Homo sapiens: one gene and its partner. The protein of the gene in region 1 purifies or fractionates together with the protein of each later gene. This does not show direct contact. Each region holds a gene or a part of one and is shown on either strand. Other genes may lie near its edges.

What was found.
Region 2: the proteins of WARS1 (region 1) and GTF2I fractionate together in Homo sapiens (co-fractionation; 2 studies listed by BioGRID). This does not show direct contact.

Annotation. Positions count from the first base shown.
Region 1 is NC_000014.9:100,351,248-100,358,526, forward strand, and holds part of WARS1 (tryptophan--tRNA ligase, cytoplasmic), read right to left. Parts: intron 3,320-7,279; coding exon 3,200-3,319; intron 2,623-3,199; coding exon 2,440-2,622; intron 1-2,439. UniProt on the Homo sapiens protein: Catalyzes the attachment of tryptophan to tRNA(Trp) in a two-step reaction: tryptophan is first activated by ATP to form Trp-AMP and then transferred to the acceptor end of the tRNA(Trp).
Region 2 is NC_000007.14:74,730,715-74,737,993, reverse strand, and holds part of GTF2I (general transcription factor II-I), read right to left. Parts: intron 5,516-7,279; coding exon 5,332-5,515; intron 4,072-5,331; coding exon 4,013-4,071; intron 2,534-4,012; coding exon 2,462-2,533; intron 1,495-2,461; coding exon 1,311-1,494; intron 1-1,310. UniProt on the Homo sapiens protein: Interacts with the basal transcription machinery by coordinating the formation of a multiprotein complex at the C-FOS promoter, and linking specific signal responsive activator complexes.

The DNA of each region.
Region 1 (7,279 bases):
GCCTGACTGGAAAAGGAGAAGCAGAACCCACAGTTGTCTCTGCAGAGGTTCAATCAGTTGAATCATTGTATGGAATGGGGTGAGAATAAGGAAATAAAGTGCCATGAAAATTATACTAACACGGCTGGGCATGGTGGCTCACACCTGTAATCGCAGCACTTTGGGAGGCTGAGGCGGGGAGGATCACTTGAGGTCAGGAGTTCAAGACCAGCCTGGCCAACATGGCAAAACCCATGAGTGAGACTCTGTCTCAAAAAAAAAAAAAAAAAAGAAAATTATGCTAATGATGACATCTATGTTCTTGTTTGATCCCATTTCATGGACACGGCTGCTATGACACACAGCCACTAAACCCAGGTGCCAGGATCTGGATCCCTGTCTATTTTCCTTCCTTCAAGGATGCCACAGGGCCTCCATGCTCACATGGCTGAACCAAGAGAAGTAATTTTAAAAGATCTAATAGGTGCTGGGCGTGGTGGCTCATGCCTGTAATCCCAGTGCTTTGGGAGGCCGAGGCAGGCAGATCATGAGGTCAGAAGATCGAGACCATCCTGGCTAACACAGTGAAACCCCGTCTCTACTAAAAATACAAAAAATTAGCCGGACATGGTGGCGGGCACCTGTAGTCCCAGCTACTTGGGAGGCTGAGGCAAGAGAATGGTGTGAACCTGAGAGGCGGAGCTTGCAGTGAGCCGAGATTGTGCCACTGCACTCCAGCCTGGGTGACAGAGCGAGACTCCGTCTCAAAAAAAAAAAGAAAAAGAAAAAGCTAACAGTTTTACTGGCTGATAGAAGGGCGAGATTTCCTATCAGGGTATACATTGCTCTCAATGGATATAAAACCACTACTCAGTTTCTTTCTTTTTTTTTTTTTTTTTTTTTGAGACAGAGTCTCACTCTGTTGCCCAGGCTGGAATGCAGTGGCATGATCTCGGCTCACTGCAACCTCCGCCTCCCAGGTTCAAGCGATTCTTCTGCCTCAGCCTCCCAAGTAGCTGCAACTACAGGAGCACGCCACCACACCCGGCTAATTTTTGTGTTTTTAGTAGAGATGGGGTTTCACCATATTGGCCAGGCTGGTCTCGAACTCCTGACCTCCTGACCTTGTGATCCACCCACCTCAGCCTCCCAAAGTGCTGGGATTACAGGCATGAGCCACCGCGCCTGGCTGCCACTACTCAGTTTTAAGGTCTTATAAGAGGGAACGTTCTGGGGATGCGGCTCTAAGCAAGTCCTCCTGTGCTCACTGCTCACCTGCCCCTTTAGTGTCCCTCTTATCCTGCCTCGGCATGGTCCCTGATGGTGAGCTAACATGGGAGGGCCTGCTCAGAGCCCAGCCTGGGCTGCAGGAGCATAGCAATGAACCCACTCCTCCTGGGGAATCACTTTAGGGGAGGAGTAACACGTCTTTGGGGAGTGGAGTAACATGCCTTAGGGGAGTACCATGCCTTAGGAGAGACCACGCCTTAGGGGAGTACTATGACTTAGAAGAGTATCTCACCTTAGGGGAGTACCACAACTCAGGTGCTCAAGAAATATTTGTTGAGCTAGATAGTATCCTTCTTGTGATGGTTGACCAAAGTCTTATTTTTCTAACACATTTCTTGGTAATCATTTGGGATGAAACTTGAAGGATTTTCAGAATGAAATATTTTGGTTTATTAAATGGCTGATTAAAAGAACTAGACTGAGGAAACTGTGTAACCACTGAGTCTTTTCTCTGTGAGGAAAAGGTGCGTTGAAAAGGAGGAAGACATAACTCTGGAAGACTGACTATCCTTGGCAAGAAACTGCAAGGCAGGACTTCCTGGCACAGCTGAGGATGAAGATCTGAGATGCCATCATGCTGTGGCTGAGCCCATATTTTAAATTTCTGTAAATGTAATTATGGAGACAATAATCGAGTCTTTAAGATACTGATATCACTTAATCCTTTCTATGTACATACACAGCTTTTCACTTTCAAAATTATTGGTAAATAAAACCAATAAACCAGCTCATAGCATTTTTTTTTCCTTTTTGAGATGGAGTCTCGCTCTGTTGCCCAGGCTGGAGTGCAATGGCGTGATCTCAACTCACTGTAACCTCCACCTCCCGGGTTCAAGCGATTCTCCTGCTTCAGCCACCTGAGTAGCTGGGCTTATAGGTGCGTGCCACCACACCCAACTAATTTTTGTATTTTCAATAGAGATGGGTTTCACCATGTTGGTCAGGCTGGTCTTGAACTCCTGACCTCGTGACCCGCCCACCTCGGCCTCCCAAAGTGCTGGGATTACAGGTGTGAGCCACCATGGCTGGCCACTCATAGCATTTAATAAAGGAAGAAGAACATTTACTAGGCCTTAAGACCATTTCAGTTGTTTCGAATTTAGCTGTGGTCATGACAACTTGACATCCTCCTCTACCTATTGAAAAGGCAGCCAGACGTTTTCTCCTTACCCCATGTAGTCCAGGTCAGAGAATATGAAAGTCTTGTTGATGTCAAAGCCACAGGCGATGATGTCCTTGGCATTCTCCACAGCATAGCTATAGGCCTGGTCCAGGGTCAGGTCCTTCCACAGATACTTCTCGTCATCCGTCATCTGGATGACCAAGGGCACGTTAAATACATCCTGGAGCCACCTAAAGAAACACAGGGGGAGAAAGCTGACGTCTCATCTCCCCTGTGGAGGAACGCCATCGTGCATCTGAAAACACAGCTCCTACTTACAACGTATGTTAAAACTTCCTTGCCTACAAAATCACAATTTGAATTGTGATATGAATTTGACTATGGATAATGATAAGGTCTACTACCATTTATCGACCAGGTGGCCCTGTGTGCTCTGTGTTAGCTGCTCTACACACTTTGTTTTGAAGCTTTACAGTAGTTCTATGAGGTAGGTATCTTCATTCTCATCTTGCAGATGTGGAAACTTAGGCTCAGAGAAGTAGCAGGCCCATGGCCATGCAGACAGGGAGCAGGATGAGAAGAGGAGCAGGCCTGGCTGACTCCAAAGCTGCGCTCTCCCCATCACTCCATGGTCCTCTAAAGTGAGCCCAGGAACAAAGTGAATGGAAGCCAAAAAAGTGCCAACTCTTGACATCTTGGTTGCTCAGCAAATGAACTAGCATGATCTTGTCAGTTCTAAACATGGTTTATAAGCAACATTCTCAATTCACTAAGAGAGTAAGAAAAGCCATAAGATCCAATACTTACTTTGTGAAAATAAATGGAATGAGGTGACCTACATGCATTGCTTCAGAAGAGGGGCCCCGGCCCGTGTACAGATAAAATGGCTTCTTATTTTCATAGGCATCAAGAACCTGATTCATATCTCTAAAGGAAAAAGGAGAAGAGGAAGAGTGTGATTTTCTGAGAAAAATATCAAGGCACTAATGCACTTTTGGAAATGGAAAATATAGACAGAGACGAAACAACATGGATAATAACTAGAATTTGTTACCTTTGGTGCTTATGATATAAATATAGACAGGAAACTTCTACTGAAATGGTTTCTCCTGTGAGTGTTTTAAAAGACAAGATGTGTAGGTTTGGAATAATGTGTTTAAAAGATGGATCCAGCTATGCAGTTACTGGGACTCCTGGAATCCCTCCAAACATCAGTGCCGACATACTGTGAGCTTGGTACACTTCCCTGGGGATACCAGGCCAACACCATATGATCCTTGCTCAGAATCACCCAGCCCCGAGGACTCTCAGACCAATACCAGGCAAACTGCATGGGACCAGACAGTCCTGGCTTAGCAGGGAAAGTAAGAATTGTCCTCTGGGAGTTCAGAGGTCAAGTGCCCAGTTGGAGATCTATCTGGGCCCCTCAGCCAGCTTGGGACTAGGTATCTTCATCTGCAAGTCACTCAAGAGTCATCCCCCTCCCTACCAGGCTGCTTCCAATCACAGCTGCCTGCGCCCCACCTCCAGAGACTGATTCAATGGATCTGAGGTGCTCTCTGGGAATGTGTTTGTTTGTTTGTTTATTTATTTATTTTTGAGACAGAGTCTCACTCTGTCACCCAGGCTGGAGTGCAGTGGTGTGATCTCTGCTCACTGCAACCTCTGCCTCCTGGGTTCAAGCGATTCTCCTGCCTCAGCCTCCCGAGTAGCTGGGCATAGTAGGCACCTGCCACTATGCCCAGCTAATTTTTTGTGTTTTTAATAGAGACGGGGTTTCACCATGTTGGCCAGGCTGGTCTCAAACTCCTGACCTCGTGATTTGCCTGCCTCGGCCTCCCAAAGTGCTGGGATTACAGGTGTGAGCCACTGCGCCTGGCCGGGAATTTGTATTTTTAAAAAGCTCCGTGAGGAGTTCCAATGTTCAGCAGGGTGGGAAACCAACGCTCGAGGATGAATGTCCTTTGTTTCTGGGTAAAGTGTCCCCAAATACAAGAGGAATAACTACCTTTTCCAGAGGTCTGGATAGGAGAATCTAGAGAACAGTATTCTGAAAGTGACTTCTCCTTATATTCCCCAAGCCAAGGGTCAACATTGCTTATCTCTGGACAGATACAATTGTGGGTGTTCTGGTTTTTGGGCTTAGTTTTCATTTTTTTTCCCCATGAAATGCTCACATACTGCTTTTGAAATAAGGAAAGAAAATAACCCATAATTTTGGAAGGAAAGAATCCTTCTTTGGTTCTCACAACTAACCATATGGGCTTACAGAAGAGAAAAAAATGTAACTGTGCCACGAGCTGCTTTTCTTGTGTTTATGTGGAGCATCTGAGAACTCACTGTGTGCTCGGTCCTGGGGTGAGGTGCTCCTGACAAGCGTGCAGAAATTTACTGGGTTCCAATTTTGAGATCATGTTTTATGAGGATGGATTCCAGCAGAGACTCATTCAGCTACTAAGGGAACCCAGTTACCTGCCCACCACTTGAAGCTTGACTGTGCATAGTAGATCTCATTTAATCCCCAATTTTACAGATGACAAAATTAGACAGAGGGGCAGTTTGAAATTTGAGAATGGGCAAATGACTCAGGTCCTATGCTTTCCTAAGCCAAGAGGCTACAGTATTACTATACTGCAGTTAATAAATAAGTCACAAAGGCAGTGAGAAGAACCATGCCATGCTAAGATAAAAAATGCTGACTACAAACCAACAAAATTAGTAAACTTTGAACCAAAGTGACTGGGTGTGTGTGTGTGTGTGGGGGGGGGTGTGGAATAAAAGAGAAGACTCAAACGGCCAAAATCAGGAATATAAGAAGGGGTATTACTACTGACCTTATAGGAATAAAAAGGATTACTACATAAGGGAATACTATGAATAACTGTATACCAATACATTAGATAACCTTGATGAAATAGACAAATTCCTAGAAACAAACTACTGAAACGAACCCAAGAAGAAATAGAAAATATACACAGATCTGGAACAAACAAAAAGACTGAATTAGTAATCAAAAAACTTCCTACAAAGAAAAGCCCAAAACCCCATTTTCACTGGTAAAGTCTATCAAATGTTCAAAAAAGAATTAATACCAATCCTTCCCAAGCTTTTCCAAAAAAAATTGAATAAGAAATACTTCCCAACTCATTCTATGAGGCCAGTATTACCCTGATACCAAACCAAAGACATTAAAAGAAAACTACAGACCAATATCCCTTATGAACACAGATGTAAAAATCCTCAGCAACTCACAAACCAAATCCAGCAACATATAAAAAAGATTATACACTATGATTGAAAATAAATTGATTTTCAACACCATGATTAAGTGGAATTTGTTCCAGGAACGCAAGGTTGATTAAACACGCAAAAACCTATCAGTGTGATACACCATACTAATAAAATAGAGGCCAAAACCCACATGATCATCTCAATAAACACAGAAAATGCATTTGATAAAATCTAACATCTTTTCATAATAAAAACACATGTTGAAGGGTATATAGAAAGCCCACAGCTAACATTATACTAAATGGTGTATATTCAGTCTTTACTGAAAGTTTTTCCCCTAAGATCAGGAATAAGACAAGGATGCTCACTTTCACCACTACTATTCAACATCCTATTGAAAGTTGAAGTCAGAGAAATTAGGAACGAAAAAAAAATCCAAATTGGAAAGGAGGAAGTAAAACTGTCTCTAATCATAGGAGATACAATCCTATATGTAGGAAATCCTATCGAATCTGCAAAAAGAAAAAAAGCATTAGCGCTAATAAACTCAGCAAAATTTCAGGATATAAGATTAATACACAAACATCAATTGTATTTTTTTTTTTTTTGAGAGGGAGTTTTGCTCTTTTTGCCCGGGCTGGAGTGCAATGGCACGATCTCGGGTCACTGCCACCTCTGCCTCCTGGGTTCAAGTGATTCTCCTGCCTTAGCCTCTTGGGTAGCTGGGATTACAGGCGCCCACCACCATGCCTGCCCAATTTTGTATTTTTAGTAGAGATGTGGTTTCACCATGTTGGTCAGGCTGGTCTCGAACTCCTGACCTCAAGTGATCCACCCGCCTCGGCCTCCCAAAGTGTTGGGATTACAGGTGTAAGCCACCGTGCCCGGCCATCAGTTGTATTTCTATATAGTAGCAATGAACAATCAAAATGAGATTAAGAAAATGCCATTTAGAATAGCATTAAAAAGATAAAATTCTAATGAATAAATCTAAGCAAAGAAGTGCAAAACCTATACACTGAAAATTACAAAACATCAATGAAAGAAATCAAAGAAGTGAAAAGACATCCCATGTTCATGGATTAGATGAATTAATATTTTAAGATGGCAATACTCCACAAATGAATCTACAGATTCAGTGCAATCCCTATCAAAATCCTAGCTGCTGCTTTTGCAGAAATGGAAAAGCTGAAATTCATATGGAAATGCAAGGGGCCCAGAATACCTAAACAATCTTGAAAAAGAACCATGTTTGAGTACTCACATTTTCTTATTTTTTTTTGAGACGGAGTCTCACTGCCACCCAGGCTGGAGTGCAGTGGCGCGATCTCGGCTCACTGCAAGCTCCGCCTCCCGGGTTCATGCCATTCTCCTGCCTCAGCCTCCCGAGTAGCTGGGACTACAGGCGCCCATCACCACACCTGGCTAATTTTTTGTATTTTTAGTAGAGATGGGGTTTCACCGTGTTAGCCAGGATGGTCTCAATCTCCTGACCTCGTGATCCGCCTGCCTTGGCCTCCCAAAGTGCTGGGATTACAGACATGAGCCACTGCGCCCAGCCAAGAATAGTCTTTTCAAAAAACAGTGCTGGGACAATTGGATACCCACAAGCAAAAGAATGAAGTTGGAGCTGTACCTCACAAATATACAAAAATT
Region 2 (7,279 bases), on another chromosome or scaffold:
GGCCTTTCTCACACAGCTGTTCATTGCCAATTAGTTATAAATATGGTTCATCCTGCCTTCATTTTATAGTGAAAAAAAAATCATTTTGGTGACGAGTTTATTTTGAAAATGGCAATTTTCAGATATTCGGGTGAGACCTTCAAAATCATCCTATATTTAAGATAAACAGGCGAAAGTCACTTTTCCCCCAAACCAGCTCAATTCTGTTTCTGAATCTTACATGAACTGTCCCACAGCACAGCCAGAAGCAGCTCGCTGTAGCATCTTAAACGTTTCCTATCCCTTATAACTCAGTCCCAACAAACACACAGAGGCATGACCCCAATCAGTAAGGAAGGTTTACCCTTCCACATCCCGTCAATGAGTGGAGAGAGGCCTTCTGTTCCTAACCCCGCACCCAAACTAACCATTGTGTTATCCTTCAAAATCAAGCCAGAATTACCTTTCTAAAGGGCGGATCCACATTATTTTCAGAGGCATCTGCCTCGAGACCACTTCGTGACTGCCTCTGTGTTCGTAGGATCTCAGGCCTTCCTCCACTTGCCCACCCAAGTCGATCCATGCAACCCCACCACGCCCACGTGGCAGTCCTCACTCCACACACGGTGGGTGAGTTCTGTGGATACGCAGGCATATTTGCCACCTCCTCCCCCTACTCATATGATTTCCTTCACTTGAAACACCTTCCATCTCTTCTGGATGCACAAGTGACCGAGCTGGGTGTGCCATCCTTGCCTTCTCCCTTAAAAACGCTCAATAACACTTCATTGCATTTTTCTATTTTTTTTTTTTAATTATTTTGAGATGGAGTCTCGCTCTGTTGCCCAGGCTGGAGTGCAGTGGCACGATCTCGGCTCACTGCAACCTCCGCCTCTAGGGTTCAAGTGATTCTCCAACCTCAGCCTCCCGAGTAGCTGGGACTACAGGCTTGCACCACCGCTTCCAGCTAATTTTTGTATTTTTACTAGAGATGGGGCTTCATCATGTTGGCCAGGCTAGTCTTGAACTCCTGACCTCAAGTGATCCACCTGCCTTGGCCTCCCAAAGTGCTGCGATTACAGGCGTGAGCTGCCGCGCCCGGCCTTCAGTGCATTTTTCTTTGTATGAAGGCCCCAAGGACAGTGTTCTTGTTAGACCCAATTTTGCACATCTGATGCTTATACTAATATTTGTTCACTAAGTGAATCTAAATATTAATGCCTTCATTGTCAATAGAAATAAGTCATAAGGTAAACAAAAGGCCCTTCTTCATCAAATTAACCTCTTCTCAGGGAAGACACTGAAACTATTTCTACAGATTATCATCTTACCTTTTAATAACAAATTTAATTCGATTGCCCACTTGAATGATTTTTTCCAGCCTTGGGATTCCATACCATGAGGGACTTCGGAAAGGAATGTTTTCTGGCAGTCCTTCCACGTACAGATCATTCGGGTGTGCCTCAAATTTTTGGTACGGTACAGCCTTGGCTTCAGTGCTCCCCAAGGCTTCCGCTGGACAAAAATCAAAGCAATTCGGGAGACTACATTTGTATTGAAATCAGATTTTAGTACAATCCAAAGAAAGGCACAGGTCAATTTTGTTTTACTTGAAAAAAACTCTTTCTAGAAACATATTTATTAACTATTGAATAGACTTAATACAGCAAAGACAAGTAGAGATGACCGATCATCAACAGCCAGATTTGGGCAGATTTAAGTGTCCTGGTCCTAAGACAATCTTAATAGCTCTGAGATCTTTAAAAGATTAAAGTTTGTTTTTCAATATCCTTAGGAAGAAAAGAGAGAAAGAAAATCATCATGGACAATAGAGGACACAACCTAAATACTATCTGGAAGCAGCCTTTTGCTACTAACTGTTCAGGACCGTAATTACCCTCCTCCATCGGCTATGGCAAACTGGTAACACATTTCCGACTACACTTTCATCTGCGTGGCAACCAGATCAATGTTCTTTACCCCTTCAACCTCACGAGCATGCCATTTTAAAGGAAATAACTTTCCACAGATAATTCATAGAATGGGGGCCGGGCGCGGTGGCTCACGCCTATAATCCCAGCACTTTAGGAGGCTGAGGCGGGTGGATCACCTGAATTCAGGAGTTTGAGACCAGCCTGGCCAACATGGCGAAACCCCATCTCTACTAAAAATACAAAAGTTAGCCAGGCGTGGTGGCGGGCACCTGTAATCCCAGCTACTTGGGACGCTGAGGCAGGAGAATTGCTTGAACCCGGGAGGAGGAGGTTGCAGTGAGCTGAGATCGTACCACTGCACTCCAGCCTGGGCAACAGAGCAAGACTCCTTCTCAAGAAAAAAAAAAAAACCCAAAAAAAAAAAACAGGGAAAACTAAAGCTGAGTCCTATTCACTGTATTTACTTTCCTAAAATAAAACAACATTTAAAAAAATGTTACTCAGTAATACATTTTAGTTGAAGGGGTAATTAAAAAAAACAGACTTACCAAATTTTTTGCAGAAAAGCTGATCCACCATCTTTCTTAATTTAGTGATTCTGGCATACCATTCTTCCTTTACTGTCAAAATAACAGTAATACAAGTGTTCTCAATTTAATGGGTTTAATAACTTGATTATTAAACATTATTACTATAAAATAAGAGGTATAACTTTTCCTTTTCCTATGGCCAAAATTATTTCTAAGATTCGTGGCCAGGTGCAATGGCTCACACCTGTAATCCCAACACTTTGGGAAGCCGAGGCAGGCGGGTCACTTGAGGTCAGGAGTTTGAGACCAGCCTGGCCAACATGGTGAAACCCCATCTCTACTAAAAATACAAAAATTAGCCAGGCGTGATGGCGCACGCCTGTAGTCCCAGCTACTCATGAGGCTGAGGCAGGAGAATCGCTTGAACCCAGGAGGCAGCGGTTGCAGTGAGCTGAGATTGCGCCATTGCACTCCAGCCTGGGCAACAGAATGAGATTCCGTCTCAAAAAAAAAAAAAGACAATAATAAAATTATTCCTAAGATTCTAGAATGTATTTATTTCTAAAACAATGCTGACACTGTACAAAAAGAGGAAGAACGAAACATTCATTAGAGCTAGGAAAAAGCAAAACTCAGTGTATTCAGGAACAGCTAGCAGGTAACACTTGCTACAGGAAGATTAGGGCTATGATCTTGCTGCAGTCCTTCTATCTTAGTAAATATCAACAGGGTGATTCCATTCTGTTTTATCCTCACTCCACTCCACTCCAGAGCAAAAGCAAGCAAGAAAATCAATTATATTTCTATTTATTTTAAAACACATCTAACAGGCTGGGCGCGGTGGCTCATGCCTGTAATCCTAGCACTCTGGGAGGCCGAGGTGGGCAGATCACCTGAGGTCAGCAGTTTGAGATCAGCCTGGCCAACATAGTGAAACCCTGTCTCTACGAAAAATACAAAAATTAGCTGGGCATGGTGGCAGGCACCTGTAATCCCAGCTACAGGGAGGCTGAGGCAGGAGAACTGCTTGAACCCAGGAGGCGGGAGGTTGCAGTGAGCGGAGATCGCACCACTGCACTCCAGCCTGGGCAACAGAGCAAGATTCCCTCTCAAAAAACAAAACAAAACAAAACAAAATACATCTAACAATTAAGAGATGATATAAATGGCTCCATGCTCTAAAAGGAAACCTTCTTATGTCCTGCATATCATGGACATTCAATGAATGCTTGTTCCATTGACTCGTGTAGACTTCAATAATAAACTGTTCAATGCATTATGCCAGATAAATCTTGCATCAAAAGTAGAACAAATATTGTTCTTTTACTTCTGTCTACCCATAAATGCAATATTTATAAGTATTTACAATGGGTTAATAAAAAGAAGATGCGTTTATTCTTCTAGAAATTATTAGAATTTTGACAACATGAATTCTCCTGTAATGGCACATAATTAATAGTTAGAGACATATTATTTCATGTGGAAGGTAACATAAAGAAGAAATCAATGTTAAGCGTGAAATAATTATTGCACATAATCTTCTGATCTGCCTCGAGATTGAAGACCTACCTCCTGAAGCTGGCTTATCAAGCTGTAAATCTTCACGTGTTGAATTCAGAAGCTCATGTCTGAAAGGTGAGAATAAATACTCAATAATCACTAGGTAATATTCAGCAAACTAATAACGACTAGTACATATTTAACATTTAGTCAGTAAGGCTGGTTTTGAAAAGAAAAGATAATCTGGATGCTTGAGCACAACTAAATCTTTTTTTTTTTTTTCCTGAGACGGAGTTTTGCTCTTGTTCCCAGGCTGGAGTGCAATGGCGCAGTCTCGACTCACTGCAACCTCCACCTCCCGGGTTCAAGCAATCCTCCTGCCTCAGCCTCCCAAGTAGCTGGGATTCCAGGCGCCCACCACCACACCTGGTCAATTTTTGTATTTTTAGTAGAGACAGTGTTTCACCATTGTTGGCCTGGCTTGTCTCGAACTCCTGACCTCGGGTGATCCAGCCGCCTTGGCCTCCCAAAGTGCTGGGATTATAGGTGTGAGCCACTACACCCAGCCCACAACTAAATCTTAATTTGAGGTTTCTACAGAGTAAAAAGCAAACTAATAATTGCAAGTTGTCTCATAAGGTGCTTCATGGAGCATGTATCCTCACAAGTAAAGAGGTAACTTTGCAACCCACAGGTCTTTGAAGCATATTACAAAAATCTTAAATGGGATCCTTTAATGTCATATTGCATTCAAGACTATCTTCCTCTGCACATCTATAAAAACAATCATATATTCCCACGCATGCTTTAAAAATCTCAGGCCTATGAGGGCGAGGTTGGCAGATCATCTGAGGTCAGGAGTTCAAGACCAGCCTGGCCAACATGGTGAATCACCGTCTCTACTAAAAATACAAAAATTAGCCAGGCATGGTGGCGCACGCCTGTAATCTCAGCTACTCGGGAGTCTGAGGCATGAGAATCGCTTGAACCTGGAAGGCAGAGGTTGCAGTGAGCTGAGATTGCGACACTGCACTCAAGCCTGGGTTCCAGTGTGAGACTCCATCTCGAAAAAAAAAATATATATATATATCAGGCCTAAAAACAAGGCGTGGATTCTATGTTCTTTAGCAAAAGTAGCAGAAAATTGTGAAAGAAAATGTGAGTTGCATGCCAATCCAGTGCGGGCACTGTTCATGCTTCGAATGCCAACACTGCATGACTGATGCAATGCTGGACCCAGATAAATTAAAAAGTGCAAGATAAAAATACATAAAATAACTCAAACTTCATCACATAGAACCTAGTGGTGAATGAATATTGGTCAACAATAAAAAAGACGTATTACTCAGAAAAGAGACAAGAGTTCAACAGGAATCCAAGAGTCTTACTTCTTAATCACAAAACGAATCCTTTCCTTTGCAAGTAATATCCTCTCCAGGCGAGGAATTCCGTAAGTAGATGGCCTTCTAAAAGGAATTCCTTCAGGAAGTCCTTCTACATAAAGATCTTCAACATGAGACTGGAAAAGAGGGTACGGGATCGTCACCGGACCTTTGGCTTTTATGGCTTGAGCTATAAGGACAAAAAGAGAAAGAGATATCATTTAAACACAATTTGTAGAAAAGAATAATAAATCATTGAATCTGTAGTGCTCTTTAACTTTTTTTTTATTTTTTTGAGATGGAGTCTTGCTGTGTCTCCCAGGCTGCAGTGCAGTGGTGTGATCTCGGTTCACTGCAAGCTCTGCCTCCCGGGCTCACGCCATTCTCCTGCCTCAGCCTCCCGAGTAGCTGGGACTACAGGTGCCCGCCACCACGCCCAGCTAATTTTTTGTATTTTTAGTAGAGACGGGGGTTTCACTGTGTTATATATATATGTATATGTGTTTATGTATATATATATATATATGTATATGTGTATATGTATATATACATATATATGTATATGTGTGTATATATATACACACAGGAAGCATTTATTACATGTATGCCAGGTATTACGTGAAGCACTTTACTATCTTATCAATCTCCAGGATAGATCTTCAGTTCTCATGACCACAAAAGAGGATACTAAGACTCAGACAGGAGAAGAGACGTGGCAAGGCACTGTGTCCCCAGAGCCTATGATCTTACCACTAGGTTACAGTGCTTCCAGGTAGCACATGCTATGAAGTTTTTGCTTCATAATGAACCAATAGAAAACATGAGGCCGGGCGCAGCGGCTCACGCCTGTAATCCCAGCACTCTGGGAGGCCGAGGTGGGTGGATCACCTGAGGTTAGGAGTTCAAGACCAGCCTGGCCAACATGGTGAAACCTTGTCTCTACTAAAAATACAAAAATTAGCTGGGCATGGTGGCGGGCACCTGTAATCTTAACTACTCAGGAGGCTCAGACAGGAGAATTGCTTGAACCTGGGAGGCAGAGGTTACAGTGAGCCAAGATCGTGCCACTCCAGACTAGGCAACAAGAGCAAAACTCTATCTCAAAAAAAAAAAAAACAACAACAAAACAAAAAACAAAAAACCACGGGCAAAAAAGGTGTAAGCTATTAAAAACTGGGAGAAACACTAAGAGAACCTTAAGTAAACCACTAAAAATATGGAAAAGTTACTGAATTCATTAGCAAATTTACTCTAATTGTAGATTTTCATTGAGGGGTAGGTTATATTACTCATGATGAAGAAAAAATGCTCATTTTAAGTTTGTTAACACAAATACCATCAATATGGTTTATTGCATTTAAATTTTCACTTATAGCAATTCAGTTAAAACTGCATATCATACAATTTTACCGCTTGCTAGTTAATGGCAAAGTAAATAGTCATCCAAATAAAAATGATAACAGATGATAATAAATATGATAAAAATAAAATGATTTTTATTTTAAATCATTTTAAATATTTTATAAAAAATAAAAATGATAATAACAAATTGCGAATTTCTTTGATCATTATATAAAGGTGGCTATAGGACAGAATAGTAAAAGGACAAAGAAGGAATTGAAATCTAGCATCAACTCAGTTATACATCAAGATAAAAGCAGTGGCCGGGAAGGGTGGCTCACGCCTGTAATGCTAGCACTTTGGGAGGCCAAGGCGGGAGGATCACTTGAGGTCAGGAGTTTGAGACAAGCCTGGCCAACATGGTGAAACCCTGTCTCTACTAAAAATACAAAAATTAGCAGGGCATGGTGGCGGGCACCTGTAGTCCCAGCTGCTTGGGAGACTGAGCCAGGAGAATTGCTTGAACCCGGGAGGCGGAGGTTGCAATGAGCCGAGATTGTACTACTGCAATGCAGAGACTCCGTCTCAAAAAAAAAAAAAAAAAAAAAAAAAA